5 linked regions of the Homo sapiens genome follow. The protein of the gene in region 1 interacts with the protein of each later gene in a pairwise test. Each region holds a gene or a part of one and is shown in the gene's direction. Other genes may lie near its edges.

Region 1 (4,155 bases):
GTTGCATTTCAATCACGGTAACAATAATGGTAGTATTTTATTAATAAATTCAAGTAAAAACTGAAGATGACAATGATAGTGTATGATACATGACATCAACTTTGCATCACCTAAAGATCCAACTTTTCTGTTATGAATCTAGATTTCTTGGGGAAATCCAGATTGTATATTGGACATAGGAATTAAGATTACTGGACTTGAACTTTTTTGTAACTAACAACTTTATTGAGATATAATTCGGGTACCAACTCATACCTGAACAGCTTTTTAGACTTTTTTTCTAGCCCTTTTTTCTCTGTCCTTTCGGTTTTCTTTTAAAAAGGTCCATACTATTCAAGAAACACAACTTTTAAAGTCCACAATAATTCTCATTAGATTTTAATATTTATCTCCCCCCAAGCTTTACTGAAATACTAATGATATTCATTTTTTTAACCACTTTTCATCGTAAGAGAAATACAAATTTTCCTATTGATTCTTATGCACAAAAATCAAGTTTTTGTGGTACTGCTATACATTAGTAGTATGTTCAGCCAGTTTCCAAAGAAATTAGTCAAGATCCCAACATGCAACTTGTATACCACACTACCTTGGAATTCGGCGGCACAAACAACTATTCCTTGTACAAAACCTCCCTGAAAACGACTAAATGGAAAAGTGGATGGCTTGAAACAAGGAATGTTTGGTTTTTTAAAAAGCATTTTTCACAATTTAGTCGAGGTGTGGGGAGGGTTTCCCCACTTGTGGCTCTGCACAGCGTGCGCGCGCGTCTGTCCTGGGGTCCCCTCCCTGCGGGGACGAGGCCGGGGTCCCCGCGCGAGCCCAGCGGACCTGGGCAGTGCGGGGGTCCGACCGCCCGCCACAGGGGGACAGGGACCGCAGCCGCCAAATCCGCGGGGCCGGGGAACGAGGAGACTTTCCTTTCCGCGTTAGCCGGGGCCACCCCCGCCAGAGGGAAAGCACCAAAGGAAAAACCAGGACAGGGACTCTGGGGGCCGGAGGAGCGGCCTCCTGCAGGCACCAGCGGAGGGGCGCGGGGGTGGGGGAAGGGATCAGGGCTCCGCGCTCCGTCCGCCCCACGACCCCGGCCCGGCGCCCCTCCCCTCGGAACCCCCACTTAGTGCCCGGCCCCCGCCCCGCCCCGCGCGGCCCCCGGCCTCAGCCCCGCGCGCCCCGACGCCCCGCCTGCGCCGCGGGCCCGAGTAGTGGACGGGGGGCGGCCCGCTCGGCTCCTCCGCACCCGCTCCCCGCTCGGGCCGAGGCGCCGCGGCCGCGCGCCCCTCCTGGAGGAGGAGGAGGAAGGAGGCGGGAGGAGGAGTTGCCGAGAGGAGAAGGCGAGCGCGGCAGTCGCGCCGGCGCTGGGCGAGGAAGCGGAGCCGGGCCGCCTCCGGGTAAGCGTCCGGGGAGCTCGGGCGGGAGGCAGGGGCAGGGCTTCGCCGTCCGCCTCCGGGTCGCCCGCGGTCCGGGACACGGCTGGTTTTCGCCTCGGAGTGCAGGGGGCGGATCCGGCGCGGGCCGGGCCAGGGAGGCCGCCGGGCGCGGGGCTGCAGCGACGGGTCTGGGTCAGCGCGAGGCCCTGCGCCGTCTCGGCGGGTGCGCGGGCGGGGGCCAGGGCCGGGGAACGGGGGCCGGGGCCAGTCCCGGGAGCGGGGACGCGGAAACCGGGAAGCCGGGGCCGGGGCGCGGCGGCCCCTGAAGGGCCGAGGCCTGCGCGGCCGCGGACGGCTCTTCTCGACCCCTCGGCCTCTTCGGCCGCGGCGCGCCGGCCTGGGCCGCCGCCTTTGTTGCCCGCAGCTCGCCGGGGAGAGGCCGGGGCTCCGCGAGGCCTGGGCAGCGGCGCGGGGCCTGCGCGGCTCTGCGCCCCGGCCGGGTCCCTCCTCGGACCTCCGCGGGCTCGGGCTCGGGCTCGGGGTCGGGGCGCGGCGAGGCCGCAGGCGCGAGGGCGGGCCTGGGGCGCGGCGCTGGGACTCGGGGACGCCCCCGCCCCACCGCGAGGTCGCGCCGGCGCTGGTGGAGGTGCAGGCCGGGGCTGCTCTGCGGCTGAAGGTGCCGCCGGCCGGCTGCGCACTCACCCGGGTGTAGGGACCGGACGATTGTGGAATTTAAACCGCTCCTGGGACCGACACGGGCCTGAATTTTCAGTTTGCTTCGGGAGTTGGCAACTTCAGGTACACCCTTGTGGCTCACGGAGCAGAATTATGGACGTTTCTCAGGGGCAGATCCTGGCACAAAACTTGGGATATGTGCAGTAGTGTGTGTGCCAACTTAACGTTCAGTTGGAATGTGAAATTGGGGTTCCCATCCCCACTGTTTGGAATGAAGGGCCAGGTGGGAATATGTGGCGGGACTCAGTCTTCCGGTAGCAAAATAAATAATGTTGAATTCATTTCAACAAATGTTTCTGCAACGTCTGCCCGGATAAGGCAGCATGCACTGTGCATGAGGACAGAGAACACAGTAATGACAGAAATAACGTGAATTACACACTGAACGTCTCCCAGAGACATTTTAAATTTACTGTGTTCCTTGGGATAAAGATACATTTGGAATCAAACAAAAGTAAACGTTCTACTTCAAGATAAAATATCTGACATCTTCTCAACCACTGAAGGTAGCAATTTATCTTGACTTGTTTTTAACCAACTACCACAACATTAAATCCATTTAGCTTACTTGAATGAACGAATCTTAATTGTAATATTTAATGCTGTGGACAGCCTTACTTAAAAACACGAATGGCATTGCTCACCAGGTTTCACAAAAACCGGAAAAAAAGTCTGTAATACTTTTCCGTGGGCTTTCTAATTTCTCCTCCTAGTGGGTTTTGTGCACGCGTGGATATGGTAAGGTCTAGGATCCATTCAGCTCTAAATTAAATATGTGGCCTTAACCCTTTGGTTCAAACACCCTCCCTAAGCCTGCCTTGGTGCCTTGGAGGAACCTGGTTCGTGGACAGTGGATTTGATAAGGATTCCTAGAAGAACTTCTATCTGGAGTTTGGCCAGGGCTTTCCGCTTGTGCCTGGGTAAGGGTCAGCCAGGTATTCACCCGAATCTATACTTTTTTAGAACTCCATTCAGCATCTCTTTTGAAACACTGTTTCTCTCTTACCTTTATCGTTATCTTCTAAATTACCCTCTAAATTGGTAGTCTTGCCCCTTTCTCTTCAGCAGGGCCTCCCACCCAAGCGCACACCCTCGGGTCATCCCATGACCCCCTCTCTTGGTGGGCCCCCCACCCCGCAGGGAGTGGCAGGGAAGGAATTTGAGAGCCATTGACTGGGCGTAGGGTGGAAAATGGTGCTGTACTGACTGGGTTTCTAGTCATTTTGCCTTCCAGTGTTTTTCTTCATTCTTGCATTAGAACTGGAAAAGGTGTTCTTTTAATGGCCCCCCTTTTTTTAGGAAACAGAAAGCAAGTATCTTCTTTTTTGTTTTTCCTCTGTCACCCAGGGTGGAGTGCAGTGGTGCAATCATGGCTCACTGCAGCCTTGAACTCCTGGGCTCAAGTGATCCACCTCCCTCAGCCTCCTGAGTAGCTTGGACCACAGACATGTGCCACCACACCTGGCTGATTGTTTTTTGGAGAGGTGGGGTCTTGCTGTGTTGCCGAGGCTGGTCTCAAACTCTAGGCCTCAAGATCCTCTCACCTCAGCCTCCCAAAGCCCTGGGATTACAGGCACGAACCACCACACCCAGCCTGCAAGTGTCCTCTTAAGCCTTCTTGTGTAACTACACTCCTTAGAGAAAAATCTTGCTAGTTTTCTCCATTATGGCCAGTTTTCAGGAAACTTTTGGGTTATTGATCATATCTTTTATTTTGCTCATAGAGGTGTGATCTTATTTAAAAGTCCAAACATATAGATGGTCCCCAATTTTGGACTTTTTGACTTTTTGATGGAGCAAAAACGATACACATTTAGTATGCACTTCGACTTACATCCAGATAAACCCACTGTGAGTTTTGACTTTAAGATATTTTCAATTTATCATGGGCTTATTGGGACTCAATTATTGTTATTCTCTTAAAAATATGCACTCGTGACCTCTTCCAATTCTGGAAATTATATTTACATCTGTGGTGCCGAAGTACTTTTGTAAAATTATTCATTTTACAAGGGAGAAATTCCAAATACTAGTATATGTCATAAAAAGG
Region 2 (4,206 bases), on another chromosome or scaffold:
ATCCGAAATCATGTTTTTTTCTTCTACAGTCGAAAGTTTGTATTACATGTAAAATAGGAAAAAAATATTAAAATTTTTCGAAAGCGAAAAGTCTACTCAGCAAGTTTTTGGTATTTATTAATGGTTTTACTTTTGCTAGACACAAAAATGAAATACCGCTAAATTAGCTCACAGAAGAGTTCAGGATTCTATAGACTCAGGAAAAGCCTGTCCTAAAACTGTTTTAATAAAGGCTGAAAATAGACACTATAATACAGTCTTTAATAATATACAATGTGTATTCCTCCTGATGGTGGTCTTGCTTGACATTTTAAGCATAGCCCTATTTTCCTGTGAAGATAGCAGCCAGTTCTGCTTCATGTCATAACAACACTTGATTCATGTAAGCAGCTGCTACCTATGCCATCACAGTACACATAATTGCTAAATGTAGGGTTCAAATAATCGTAAATGGACACTAATATGAAAATCAGACTGTTTTGTTGTAACAGCAAAAGTTTTAGAAACAAATAATTTTAGTATCTACTTAGTACAGTAAGCATGAACATATAGTATACAGCTAGGCACAGCAGTAAATTGTTGGAAACACTAACATTTATTGTTTACGAACATACATGCAGTGTTTACACATTTCTTAAATGTTGTCTTTAATGCTGCTGATAAACGAAAGGATAAAAAGTCCAACAAACCACAATAAATGTCAATGGGTGTTATTAACAACATGAAAGAACTCAGTAGCAACAACCACATTTAAAGCTACAGGACTCGAAAGTTCCGGACTACAAATCCCAGAGTTCCCTAGAGCCCAGGCGGAGCTACCTTCAAACTGATCGCTTTTTCACCCAATGACAGCCAGAGAATCCCTAAACCACATTCAGCCCGGCCTGAAGGGCTGGTTTCTTCGCGTGAAAACAATAAGGTATTACGTAGACTTTCTGAACACGAGTGGTAGTTTCAGGGCCTGAGTCTAACTACTAAATTATTTCTCCCCGCATTAGTCTCCTAGTCATCTTAATAACTCTCTACCCAACTCTGGCTCGGTGGAAACTCGGAACGTCTAAATGCTGAAACTCACGTAAATCAGTACCAGCGGATGCATCCAGTCAGCCACGAGGAAGGCGGAATCCGCCTTATTCTTGCCCTTTATTGGCCACGCATCCCACCAATGGGGCCATTAAACTTCCGCTAACGCAGCGTACGGCGTGGTGGTGTGAGCGTTGTACGTACGCTGGGTCTACGAAGGGGCAGGCGTTCTGCTTTCGTCCAATCGGAAGCTAGCAAGAATTCCCCGGGCCGCTATGCCCCACTTCTTTCGCGTCGCGTTACGGGCCGCCTCTCTGCAGCCGACCAATCCTCTTGATTTTCTTGTGCGCATTACCCAATCAGAGAGGTCGAGGCGGGGTTCCACTTGACCGCTCTAAGCCGCCGCGCAGCCTGCGTTTTCTCCGGTACAGGTTGAGGCTACTAAGGTACATTTTGCTGGGCCAGGCTGGGCGGGTCCCCGGGATGGGCAGCCCTCTCGACGAGCGGCGACGCCGTGGTTGAGTCTAGAAAGCTAGAGTTGCTGGACAGCTATCGCGGGAGCGCGGAGGGAAGTGGGAGGTCTGGACGGAGTGTGCACGTGTTGGCAGTCTCGCTCCGCCGTCGGAGCCACCAGGTCAAACCTGTGCTGGCCCTGGCCAAAGAAACTTCTGCGGGTCAGGCTGCTGTTGCCGGTGCAGTTCCCAGTACTTCCTCTGGGGCGTTTTTCAATAAAAGCCAAACGCCCTTGCTCATTTTCAGGGAAAGACCTGTTTCCTCCTGCTCTTTCCTCTCCACGGATACTCTCCCCACCACTAAAAGGGTTTAGTATAATCCTTTTGTAGGCCAGAAAGCAGATTTTCACTTGGGAAGAGACGACCCGTAGTATGGGATGTGGTATGATACCAGCAACTGGTCTATTATATCATTTAAACCACATGGCTATCTAAAGAGGTAGGTACTGTGAGTGTTCTCATTTTCACGCGAAGCAGTGTTAGACATTACTCATTCTTGTGTTTTCTTTAGCTTGTCTCTGACAAATTGTGGCATTCAGCTTCCATGGATGTAAAATTAAAAGATGGTATAATTTGTAAAATGTTGCTCCTGTTTTCTTTTTTGTTTTTCTTTTTCTTTTTCTTTTTTTTTTTTTTTTTTGAGATGGAGTCTCAGGCTGTCGCGCAGGCTGGAGTGCAGTGGGGCGATCTCGGCTTACTGCAACCTCCGCCCCCCGGGTTCAAGCGATTCTCCAGCCTCAGCCTCCCGAGTAGCCGGGATTATAGGCGCCTGGCACCACGCCCGGCTAATTTTTGTATTTTTAGTAGAGACGGGATTTCACCATACTGGTCAGGCCGGTCTCGAACTCCTGACTTCAGGTGATCCACTCGCCTCTGCCTCCCAAAGTGCTGGGATTACAGGCGTGAGCCACCGTGCCCGGCCGTTTTCTTTATTAATTTGAAATTATTTAAAGTCAATAAAAGCCTGGGCGCGGTGGCTCACGCCAGTAATCCCAGCACTTTGGGAGGCCGAGGCGGGCGGATCACGAGGTCAGGAGTTCGAGACCAGCCTGGTCAACATGGTGAAACCCCCGTCTCTACTACGAATGCAAAAATGTGGCGGGCGCCTGTAGTCCCAGCTACTCGGGAGGCTGAGGCAGGAGAATCGCTTGAACCCGGGAGGCAGAGGTTGCAGTGAGCCAAGATCGTGCTACTGTACTCCAGCCTGGGCGACAGAGTGAGACAACGTCTCAAAAAAGAGAAAAAAAAAAGTCAATAAAACACACCTAGAAGTGAATTAATCGATTGTTACCAAGGTAAAATGATCTAGAGGAAAGACATCGCAGTAGGCACCAGTTACTGACCTTTGACTGGACAAGTCAGCATCAGCTTTTTCACCTGTATAATTGAAATAAATACCAAACTTGACTACTTAGAGTTCTGAGGATTAAATAATTTAATAGATACAAAATATGTTACCGATGAAAGCCACGTGACTGTTTCTGCTTTTCAAATTCTTTCTTGTGGAGCCTGGACTGCACTGCAACCTATGGCCGAGTAAAACAGTGGTAACTTGCAGTCAAGTACCATTTAAGTGAGAAATCCTCTGAAACGTCTATGGACTGCTTATCTCCTTGTTCAGTATTCAGGAATACTTTCCTGTGAATGCAGCTATGTTACTTACCTGGTTTGTATTCTTACCTTAGATTGTTGTAGCTATTGTAAAGCAAAAGTAAGATCAAGCCCATGTAACTACTTTTTGGGTTCTTTTCTCTCACTTTGTAAATACAGGGTGTTTTTCCAGACGGGAGTGCGGTGGCACAGTCTTAGCTCACTGCAGCCTCGAACTTCTGAGCTCAAGTGATCCTCCTGCCTCAGCCTCCCAAGTGGCAGGGATTACACACGAGCCACTGTGCCAAACCCGTGAAGTTTTTGAGTTGTACTTTTGTACTAAAGTCATGACTACTTTTTCTGCAACTGACACTATGAGCTGCAAATACGACTGAAGATGCTACTGCTTTTTTACTTTTTCCCTATGTGCTTTAAAGAACTACATTTTCAGTGATTTCCATGTGTTTAAGATATTTTCATTTACTTGGTAGAAAATACAAGAGAATTTTGATAAATCTGAACTGGAATGGTCTTTATGTTAATTCTGTTCAATATTTTAGGGCAGATTATGTACAGATTATCGCCAAACTGTCAAAAGGGTGTATTTTGTTCATATAGCTACTGTAACAAATTACAACAGATTTAGTGACTTCGAATAACACACATTTATTCTTTCTGCCTTTGTTTCTTTCTTTTTTTTTTTTCCTTTGGTGAAAAGTACACACTTAAGAAAGGGGAGTGCAGATGTACTCAAGAGAGTCACCTCTTCCTTTTTTTTTTTTTTTTTTTTGGTAGAGATGAGGTCTCGCTATGTTGCCCAGGTGGGTCTCAAACTCCTGGGCTCAAGCAGTCCTCCCACCTTGGCCTCCCAAAGTTCTGGCATTACTGGCATGAGCCACCATGCTCAGCCTCATTTATTGTCTTTTAGTTCTGGAGGTCAGAAGTATGAAATCAGTTTCACTGGACTAAAGTCAAAGTGTTGCAGGCCCAATTCCTTCTGGAGGCTGTGAGAAGAAAATCCATTTCCTTACCTTTTTCAGCTTGTAGTGGCTGCCTGTCTTCCTTGGCTTGTGGCTCTTTT
Region 3 (3,515 bases), on another chromosome or scaffold:
TTCACTACTGTGTCCCTGCCTCCTAGGGAGGACGCTGCCTGGCCCAACCATTCAGATGGATCGGGTTGGGAAGAGTTTAATGCTGTCTTCCATGTTGTAGCATATGGATTGGTCACTGTGTCCATGGACATAATGTGAAAATTCTCAAGTCCATATGTCTTCCAGGGACTTGTGAAAACTAACCAGGTCATTTTGATCGCAAAATATAGAACAGGAATAAAACCCACACAAAGGGACCTTCACCCACCAAGGGACAGGATTTAAATGCTTAGTATCTCCAGGTCATATGTCTCTCGAACACACCTGGCTTCCACTCAGGTCATTTAGCCGTAACAGCTTTGCAGCTCAGACACGTGTGTTCCCAGTGTACCCAAGTTGACAATCTAACCTCTCCACAGCTTCTCTCTGACAATTGTAAATTAGGAGTTCAGCCAGTCTGGCTTCATCTTCATCATAGAAAAGGCTGCTCTGAGAAAAGGGTCTCCTAAGGCTACTTAACATTGATGTAGACAGGGCTCACCACTCCCTGTGTCCTCAGCTGTCGACCTGTCTTACTGGTGGGACTTCAAGAGGCCATACTTGGGTGCTTCCTGACCCTCTCCTTATTACCAAAGTCAAATGCAGAGCAAGGTTTGAATCCCAACAGGAGCCTCTGGAGCCCATACTCTTGCCACCAAGTTTCCTCTTTGAGAAGAAGGCCCAGCTTCACAGGTCTTTTCTACTGGTGGAGGGAAGAGTGGCGACCCTCCACCAGTTATGGGCTTGAGCATACCCTGTTTCAGTGAGTAGACAAAGCACGGGATGCACATCAAATCTGAGCTTTCCTTTTCTTTTTGGTTTTGGTTCATTGGATATAGATTGCACTTGCGGCTCCGTACACATGGCGTGTGTGTGCACATGTGAAATTCAGGGTATGCGTTCGTGGTCTATATGCAGGTGTACTCTGTGACACCTCTCTGACATGGGAGAAGCTCTCTGTGGGCCTGTGCTTCGTGAGGAACAGAGCAGCTCACAGGGAAAGTCATGGATGAGGGAGGGAGGGGGCAGGGTGCCTGCTGCCCAGCTCTGGGGCAGGCTTATGTGTCAGTGATGATCTGTTACTGAGTCCCAGTCGCACAGCTCTCAGCATCTCCAGCACTGACCATCATCTGCTGCCCTTGTTTCTCTCACAGGACGTGAGCGACAGAATAGAAAAGGAATCCCTGGATGGCCCGATCGTGAAGCAGTTAGAGAGAGGCGGGAGAGCCGTGGTGAAGATGGACTGGCGGGAGAACATCACTGTCCCCCTCCAGACAGGTGATCATGCTGCAGCGTGTGAGAGGGCAGGTTGCAAAAGTCGCTGCCGCCTTTCCAAAAAGTAAACGTGGAAATGGCCGCTCCAGGCTGTTCAGGCCCCACATCCCACCTGTCAGGTTTGAGACTTTCTTGGGTGTGTCCTCTGTGGTTTGGTTACACTGATGTGTGTTTCATTTTTGTTCCCTAGAGTGACAGGTGAGTGATGGTGTCGTGCTCTAGGTGGTCATTTCTGACCTGGGTGTGATCACCAGGTGGGGTTCAGGGGGATACCACCCTTGGGTTGGATGGGAGGATCTGCTCCCATGCCTAGGTGTGGAGTGACCTCACCTTTCAGTCCAACTCCCTAATCCCAGGACCCCATGAATTGTTTTCTTTTAAAATGTATTAGTTTTAAATTTGATTACCCATTGCTTCCCTCAATGTTTTTCTAGACCTGCGTAAATTCAGGACCTATAAAGGTGGTTCTGTCAGAGATCTCCTCCGAGCCATGAGAAATAAGGTAAGCAGTTTGTAAATGCTGGGGAGGAGACCCAGTGGCCATGACATGGACACCTTCCTCCTTTCATCCATTCTTTATAAATCTTTTATCTGTACTGGCATTCTCATCTCTCAGGAGCTAGGCGGCTTCAGCTGGACTTGGCAAACTGCAGGCTGTTGCCTCTCTTACGCTGATTTTCCCTTCAGGGACGTAGGTGCAGGTGAAGCTCCGGGAAGCAGTGCTCTGCGGCCCATGTCCCTCATGGTCTCTGGTCGCTGACTTTTGTGGGGCCCTCTCCCTGTCTGATGCAGCCACTGTGTGTAAACATGTATAAACATACCTCAAATGCGGGGACCCCACTGGGACGGACACTCCAATCTCAGGCGACTTTACTCCTCCTGAGGTGGCCAGGAGTGTCTCCAGGTCCTGACTGTCACAGAAGGCCTGAGCACCCCCTGGACTGGCTGGGCCTTGCTCACTTCAAGGCCTCCTCCTGAGTGAGGGTAGCAGGCGAGATGACGGGGCTGGATTCTTGGATACATAAGCCTTTTTTCTTTTTCTTTACCAAAAACCAACACTCACATTCTGTCTCTTCCTTGCATGATGAAAGGGTGTTTTGCCAACATTTCCCGAGCTTTCTAACCCCTTTCTAATCTCCCGAGCTTTCTAACTCTTTGCAGAAGCACCACTACCGGGAGCTGCCTGCAGAGGTGCGGGAGACGCTGGGGTCCCTCCCCGACGACTTCGTGTGCTACTTCACATCTCGCTTCCCCCACCTCCTCGCACACACCTACCGGGCCATGGAGCTGTGCAGCCACGAGAGACTCTTCCAGCCCTACTACTTCCACGAGCCCCCAGAGCCCCAGCCCCCAGTGACTCCAGACGCCCTCTGAGCGAGGGCGGCCCCTCTGTTCTGGTGGCCCCAGCTGTGACTGAGGGCCTGGTCACCACAATTAGAGCTTGATGCCTCCCGGCTTTGCAGGGAGACCAGGCTTCCCAAACCAAGTGCCTTGAGCTGCCTGCTCTGCAGCCCACAGAGGACAGTGCTGACCCCAGGAAGTGGGAGAAGTGGCCCCTCGTGACCTACAGGGAACTGGGAAGATGCTGGCCCCAAAAGCCTTACGGTCATGATGTCTGCAAAGGAGGGCCTCAGAGACAGCGCGAGTAGCACCCCCAGCCATCTACTGGATAAACTTGCTTCAGACTTTTTAAATTCCTGCTTAATGTCAGTCTACAGGCCTTTCAGGAAGGGAGAGGAGGGAATCGTACATTTTGCTTGCGTGCTGGGACAGCTAGGCTGAGATGCACCAAGTACAGCCTTCACTGGAGACCGGAATTGAGAGGTGGGGGATGCTGAGGAGGGGGAGGACGGAGTTCAGAGGGTGTCGTCCTGCAGTGTGAGATTTCTCATTGATCACAGATGTGCCCAGAGTAGCCCAGGTCACTGTTAACTAGTGTTTCTGCAGAGGCAGCAGGAGCCATGAGCATGAGGTGTGGCATTAGGGACTGGTCAGCTATGCATGCTGGCAGGTGGGGTTGTGTCTGCAGGTCTCAGAAATGAAGAGGCTGCTCTGTTCTGGAGGCAGCCGTGGCCCAGTGCCAGTGGCCAGAACAGTGGCCTTTGGTGGGTGTGTCCCGGGCCATCTCGGGGTGGTGCTCAGGAGCGCCTGGGGCAAGAGGTAAAGAGTTCCCTGGCCTTCAAGGAGAGCAGCGAAGACCCAGACAGGGGCCAGCCTTCAGG
Region 4 (3,515 bases), on another chromosome or scaffold:
ACAAACAGCTACAGGGAACGTATAATATTAAAGGTTGATTACACCCAGTTATTGGTTAGATTTTTAGAAATTTGTCAATGGAAATTATCTCAAATACAATATATTGGATGGAAAAGCAAGTATCATACAATCTATTAAAATTTTTAACATACAAAACAATACCATATGTTCTAATGGATGCATCCCTGTCTAACAAAAGTACAAAAACATCTCAGGGAAGGATTCATTCCTACCGAGACAGTGGTAGCTGATGGGTCAAGGGATGAGGATGGTGTGAGGCTTTAGCTGTATCTGAAATGTTTCTTAACAAAACAAAATGAGCCAAGACCAACATGACAAAATGTTAGCATTTGTTAAATCTGAGCAGTACTCACTGGTATTTGCAAAATTATTTTCTGAACACTTGAAATAATTTATAATTTTAAACATTTCCAATGCAAGAACATTATAAACTTTTAAGAATAAAGTAAAAATTTAGCTTAAGAAGTGGCAAAATGGAGGAAATATCAACATCTTCACAACTGACAATTCTTTCTGTGTTGCATGTCTCTGACAGACATAGACGAGTGCACTGCAGGGACGCACAACTGTAGAGCAGACCAAGTGTGCATCAATTTACGGGGATCCTTTGCATGTCAGTGCCCTCCTGGATATCAGAAGCGAGGGGAGCAGTGCGTAGGTAAGTACCACAGTGCAGTGAGCACGGTCCTGTCTTGAGTACCTTAACTGTTTCAACCTCAAGCATTCCAATCAAAGCATTCATGTTTCTTTGGAGAGTGGTAGCCAATAATTCCTTATTTTTTTATAGACTACCAATCCATTTTCCACAATAACAAGAAACAACCTTAAAGGTTGAGCTATTCTGGATAACAAAGTGTTGGTTAAATGTTAGACGAAGCAAGAGCAGAAATTTGGGGTATGAATGGGACAATAAAAACAACCACAAAAAAATTTAAATTTGCTGTTTTGGGGGCCATCGCGCTAACACACTGGTACTGTGGGCTTCATTCACCATTCACTGCTGCAGAGCATAGCATAGCACAGCACATAGAGCAAATGGTGGAGTTGCATTCCAAGCACCAACCCCAGCTCGCTTTGAGACCTTGAGCAAGTTACTTAAATCCTGTGTCTCACTATGTTCACTTGTACTGTGGAGATGATACTAGGCCCTACCTCCAGAGCTCATGTAGGGAATGCTTAGAATAGTGCCTGTCCCTGTGCAGTAAAGCTGTTTGCTATCGTTGTATTCTGAGTCAACAGATGGGTATTAAAGGCTCTTTATACTGCAAGCCTTTGTAGGGTACCATGAGTACAAAGCCAAGTTCAGCACGTGCCTCTGCTGGAGGGCCTAAGAGCGTGAGCTCCCTGACAGCAAGACCAGGTCATCTTGTGTCACTGTGGTCTCCCCAGTCCCTGAAGTGTGCCCACCATGTGATGGAGGCTCTATGCGTGTGTTTTGAGTGAATGGAAGATCAAAGTATGAGGAAGCCAACTGGCAGATAGTGAAGTAAAATACAGTACTCTGGGCTCAATCATGAGGCCCAGCACTAGGCATGAAACTCTGACTGTCCATTTATTTACATACCCCTTCTTACCACAGATCAGTGAAAAAGCCTTATTTCCTCTTAGGAACAGAGGGTGAGGATGTGGGGACAGACAACCAGCGTCAGTTTTCGCCTGAGAATGTGAGCTGTTGATGTTCACATGTCAACACTGAGTTCCATGTGGGCCCCAGCCCAGTTCTGTCTGCCATAGGGCTGTGCCTAGATGCTGGGGTTAGTGCCCAGCCTCTGAGGAAGGCCCAGGGTTTGCTATAAATGAAGCTGTGATTTAAAAGAAGAGTGTGTAGAAAACTCCAGAGATAACAAAGTTTGGCCATTGTATTAGACAGGAAAATAAATATTTGAGGGCATAAAAAGTACAGAAAAAAGAACTAATCCAACTTAGTGTGGGGTGAATCAAAGATAATGGAACATACGGTCACAGCCCTTTTAATGTGGTAGGAGGAAATATTCCTAAACTCAGATCTAATCATGTGTCTTCCCCTCCTGCTTCCCTCACTGAGAGAATCAAGTCTACATTCCTCGACAGAGCATGAAAGGTCTTGCTCAATCTGATCATTGTCCAGTTCTGTTGCATAAACACCTCTCCCCCACCACAAAATATTACACCCCAGCTTTATTCCACCAGTTCCCCACACACGTCACACAGTGTTACTTACACTTTGGTGCCTCTATACAAGCTCTTTACACAACAAAAACATTCCCTCCTGGCAAATTCTTATTTCACTGTCAAATCCTAGCTTAGGATCACTTCCTCTGGGAAGCCTGCTATGATTTACCCAAATATAATTAGTTGCTCCTCCCCTGTGCCAGTACTTCTCAAATTATGATGAAGGATACTTTTTTGTAAATTTCCAATCTACGGCAGACCAATACTTCTGTAAAGCACAATAAAAATAATGTTGCACTAATGTCAAATTGCTATTTCTAAACATGTACTCTCAGTTTCTGTATTTATTCATTGCAGACTGGTCCAAATAGCCCATGAACCAGCAGCAGTCAGCAGGCCACACTTCAAGTAGCATGGTGCTCCCTGTGTCCCATACACTCCTTTCTATTGTTGATCTTCTCATTCCATGGAATAATTTGTTTCATGCCTGTCTTTCATACCAGACAAGGCAGAACACATGTATACTGATTATCATTATAAACTTGGGGTGCCAAACACAGTACCAGCAAATAAGAATGGTTCAATGAATGTTTATTAGTTAAGAAGACATGCGTCACATATTCACCAAATAGTTATTGAGGGCTTACTGTGTAACAAGCATTGTTCTAGGAACTGGGATAATAGTAAACAAATTTTACAAATTCATAGCCCTCGTGGAGCTATTAGAAAGTATAATACCATTCATACAAATTAGCTATCAATACTAGCACCTGATGATAGTACTGAGGACTAGGAAGCACTATGCTAAAATTGCTCTTAATTAGTGTGAAGTTTCGATTTATTCGAATAATGTTTATTGAACACCTACTACTATGCCAGGCCCTATTCCAGATCTAACAATGAACAGACAAAAAACCCTCTACCTCCACCTCAAGGGGAGAATGTCATGCACTATAGTGAGGGAACACACAAGAAGCAAATAAACACATAACACAATGTCGAGTACTGTTAAGGACTACAAAGAAGTCTAAAGCAAGGTAAGGGAATAGATAGGGCAGAAGAACCTATTTGATATTGGTGGGAAAGGTGGCCACCCTGAGGAGGTGACATTTGAATGGACACCTGAACCAAAGTAAGGGGAAAAGCCATGTGAATATCTTCTTACTATTTATTTCAGTATTCAAGTTAAATCAAATATATCTTGCAGCTTATTAGCTCCCATTTATGTTTACTTGCTTTGTGCCAGTAACTTTGCCTACATTATGTCTTGTAACCCTCCCAATAATTCTACTCACAGAAGAGGAAATGCAAGCTCGAGAAGTTAAGACCAAGCTAGTAATTGC
Region 5 (3,452 bases), on another chromosome or scaffold:
CTCTACATTTCTTTCCCCACGTTTTTATCCCCAGCGTGGTGTCTGTTTGCTCTTCACACACCCCCTCCCCCCATCCCACATGACGGTGGGAAGGAGGAGATGACCCTGGAAGTCACAGGTTTATAGCGTTTTAATTGCTTTCTATTCAGTGCGCCTCTAACAGAAAAGAACGTTCCCTCCCAACAGCCCCGAGGGAAGCCTCTGAGCGACCTGGTGAAGTTCTTAAGCCTCAACGGACAATTTTCACAGCACATAGCTCTAAATGAAATTATTTGTTTGCATAGGAAATTATTTTCTGCCTGCTCCCAACAGAACGTCATCCCTGTGAGGTCCTAACTGGCCAATCTCATTCTCCATTGGCTATTCCTGAGGCCTTGCAACATTGCTGCACCTAGGATGCCCCGGACAGAGGAAGGAGTGGACAAAACCAAATCAGAGGCAGAGTAGCCCCCACACGGCTCCCTTTCTTCAGGCTATGTCATCTCTACCCTGGTTTGTTGGAGCATCAGAGGTCACAAGCTATAGGCAAAGCTGAAAAATAAAAAGAAGTATCCAGAAAAGTGAGCCTTCATTCCTGGTCTCATCCTCCCTAGCCATGGGAGACTCTGAGTAAGGCGGTCCACTTCTCTGAGCTGAAATTCCCTTCGCTCTTTAGGGAAGATCATTCCCCCTGCCCTGTTCACCTCACAGGCTTGCTAAGGAGGATCTAAGTTGTCTTGAAACATGGGAGGCAGGTTGAGCAAGCTCTTCCTAATTATCTCCCAATATACTCCTTCAGGAACTTATCCAAACTCACCTGATCAGAATTACTGTGTATGCAGAATGGACATTGAAGGCTCAGAGAGGGAGAGGGTGAGAAGGGGGCTAAGGGATGAAAAATCACCTACTGGGTACATACAATGTATATTATCTGGGTGATGGGTACACTAAAGCCCAAACTTCACCATTATACAATTCATCCATGTAACCAAAAGCCACTTATACCTCTAAAGCTGTTGAAATTAAAAAAAAAAATTACTATATATGCTCAAGTCTTCTCAATACCTGTCCTTATGCATGGTCCTGTACATTCTCTGCTTTTAATGTCTTTAAACCCTCCTGTCTACTTATCTGGAATGACCCATAACATAGCCCATTTCAAGTCTGTGTCCTTGACAAAGCACTTCCCCATTTCCCTAAACCTGAAATAATCTTACTTTCCGTTAAATTGTCATAACATTTTATCTGTGTATCTAGAAACACTGAAATCTGCAGCTACCTCATTATTTCACAAGAAGCTTAAGGAGGGCAGCTAAATTAGCTAAGCAGCCCCGTGGTTGTCCCTGTTCTTTCTATGTATACTAGAATTCCTTAGACTTCGTTACTGGAGGGCAAGCTCACTGCAGGCATTGCCCACCAATTTACTACATTCGAGCCTACATCTTCTATATTTTTGCTGGTCAGAGCTAAGGTTGAGGTTTGGGAGGCAACAGAGATTCCAAGGCTTGATTGCTGTGTAATTAACCCATCTGAGTCCTTAGGATAGAAAGGTTGTGATAACAATAGAATGGAACTTGACCAGTGTGATCTGATTCCAGAGAGGGGAAACTCCCTGTATAGGAAGTTTAAAGAGCTGCCATAGGGCTCACTTTTGGTTCTCTCAAGAATTTTTTTCTCTCTTGTTATCATTCTTATCACTCATCCTTCAAGCTTGCCATATTCTTTTTAAAAACTACTTCCGGTCAGGCGTGGTGGCTCATGCCTGTAATCCCAGCACTTTGGGATGCCGAGGCGGGTGGATCACCTGAGGTCAGGAGTTCGAGACCAGTCTGGCCAACATGGCGAAACCCTGTCTCTACTAAAAATACAAAAATTAGCTGGGCGTGGTGGCGCATGCTTGTAATCCCAGCTACTTGGGAGGCTGAGACAGGAGAATCACTTGAACACGGGAGGCGGAGGTTGCAGTGAGCCGAGATTGTGGCACTGCATTCCAGCCTGGGTGACAGAGCAAAACAACGTCTCAGAAAAAAACAAACAAACCAAAAACCACTTCCTGAAACACCTTTACCATACAAACATTGTTAAATTGGTTCACCTCTTCCCCATGCAAAATGAAGCACCTTGGCTATACTTTAACCTACAGACACAAAAGATATTTTAAAAGTCATTAACTTTCTTTTCTGTGTTTCAGAAGTTTGATTCAGTAGAAGACATCATCGAACACTACAAGAATTTTCCCATTATACTAATTGATGGGAAAGATAAAACTGGGGTCCACAGGAAACAGTGTCACCTCACTCAGCCACTCCCTCTCACCAGACACCTCTTGCCTCTGTAGCCTGGTCTTTGTGTTATCTTTGGTTTACTGGATTCAGCGCTTCCATTGTTTTCATTGATTTCAAAAGTTTATTTTCTGTGCCTTCAAGGGACAACTTTTTTAACTTTGGAGAAAAGAAAAACACTCTATAACAGAGAGTGGAAAATCACTCACGGTTTTGAAAGTTCAAACCACAGAGAAAATATTTATAACATGCAAAAAATAAAAACATTCTAGTAACTGGCCACTGGAAAATAAATAAAAATAAAAACTAGGGTTTTAAAAGTATCTTCTAAAAAACAACAACAAAAAATACTATAAACATAGCCATTATGCTCATGATACAGGCGAGCAGCAAAGGGCACCAGAAGCTGTTGCTTAAATGTTTGCAGTCAGTGCAAGACAAGTCTATGGGAAATTCCCAAATCTGTGCTCTTTACAGGACACTGCGCTGCCTTTATGTCAGTTGTTGGGCCTTACATATATACAATGTGTGGATGATTTCTTACACTAAAGATGCTGGGCTGGGTGCGGTGCCTCATGCCTGTAATCCCAGCACTTTGGGAGGCTGAGGTGGACAGATCACGAGGTCAGGAGATCAAGACCATCCTGGCTAACATGGTGAAACCCCATGTCTACTAAAAATACAAAAAATCAGCTGGGCGTGGTGGTGGGTGCCTGTAGTCCCAGCTACTCGGGAGGCTGAGGCAGGAGAATGGTGTGAACCCGGGAGGCGGAGCTTGCAGTGAGCCGAAATCGCGCCACTGCACTCCAATCCAGCCTGGGGACAGAGAGACTCCGTCTCAAAAAAAAAAAAAGGTGTTGGGTTGGTGAATATTAGCTCTCTTTTATTGTAATCCTAGAAATTCAAGTATAGGGAAGAAATGTGGTATGGAAAACCAGCAATTGTGAATGTCACCTTGAAGACAGAAACTGAAAATCCTCTGACTAGGGTGTGAAACGGTCATGGGACCAGCCTCCAGCATCATCTGCTTCAAGTAGCTTTAAGTCAAATGGAATTAACACATTCATAGTACAGAGCTCAGATTATATCCTACACTAGCCTTCAGGCAAGCATATGTCTGAGGGAAACTAAAAATTGTATTAACAATTCCAATTATGGACTTCCATTCAAAGACAGAGAAAAACTGTCCTC

What was found.
Region 2: the proteins of SOCS6 (region 1) and WDR89 interact in a two-hybrid assay, tested with the Homo sapiens proteins (one large-scale study listed by BioGRID and IntAct).
Region 3: the proteins of SOCS6 (region 1) and ERN1 interact in binary tests that used the Homo sapiens proteins (3 or more experiments, as listed by UniProt).
Region 4: the proteins of SOCS6 (region 1) and EFEMP1 interact in a two-hybrid assay, tested with the Homo sapiens proteins (one large-scale study listed by BioGRID and IntAct).
Region 5: the proteins of SOCS6 (region 1) and CLNK interact in a two-hybrid assay, tested with the Homo sapiens proteins (one large-scale study listed by BioGRID and IntAct).

Annotation. Positions count from the first base shown.
Region 1 is NC_000018.10:70,287,700-70,291,854, forward strand, and holds the start of SOCS6 (suppressor of cytokine signaling 6), read left to right. Parts: upstream 1-1,345; 5' UTR 1,346-1,391; exon of another isoform or gene 1,392-1,593; intron 1,594-1,968; exon of another isoform or gene 1,969-2,168; intron 2,169-2,197; exon of another isoform or gene 2,198-3,025; intron 3,026-3,041; exon of another isoform or gene 3,042-4,155. UniProt on the Homo sapiens protein: SOCS family proteins form part of a classical negative feedback system that regulates cytokine signal transduction.
Region 2 is NC_000014.9:63,639,067-63,643,272, reverse strand, and holds the start of WDR89 (WD repeat-containing protein 89), read left to right. Parts: upstream 1-1,401; 5' UTR 1,402-1,469; exon of another isoform or gene 1,470-1,974; intron 1,975-4,206.
Region 3 is NC_000017.11:64,043,140-64,046,654, reverse strand, and holds part of ERN1 (serine/threonine-protein kinase/endoribonuclease IRE1 precursor), read left to right. Parts: intron 1-1,172; coding exon 1,173-1,296; intron 1,297-1,727; coding exon 1,728-1,795; intron 1,796-2,454; coding exon 2,455-2,667; 3' UTR 2,668-3,515. UniProt on the Homo sapiens protein: Serine/threonine-protein kinase and endoribonuclease that acts as a key sensor for the endoplasmic reticulum unfolded protein response (UPR).
Region 4 is NC_000002.12:55,878,776-55,882,290, reverse strand, and holds part of EFEMP1 (EGF-containing fibulin-like extracellular matrix protein 1 precursor), read left to right. Parts: intron 1-556; coding exon 557-679; intron 680-3,515. UniProt on the Homo sapiens protein: Binds EGFR, the EGF receptor, inducing EGFR autophosphorylation and the activation of downstream signaling pathways. May play a role in cell adhesion and migration. May function as a negative regulator of chondrocyte differentiation.
Region 5 is NC_000004.12:10,489,332-10,492,783, reverse strand, and holds part of CLNK (cytokine-dependent hematopoietic cell linker), read left to right. Parts: intron 1-312; coding exon of another isoform or gene 313-336; exon of another isoform or gene 337-1,046; intron 1,047-2,170; coding exon 2,171-2,317; 3' UTR 2,318-3,452. UniProt on the Homo sapiens protein: An adapter protein which plays a role in the regulation of immunoreceptor signaling, including PLC-gamma-mediated B-cell antigen receptor (BCR) signaling and FC-epsilon R1-mediated mast cell degranulation.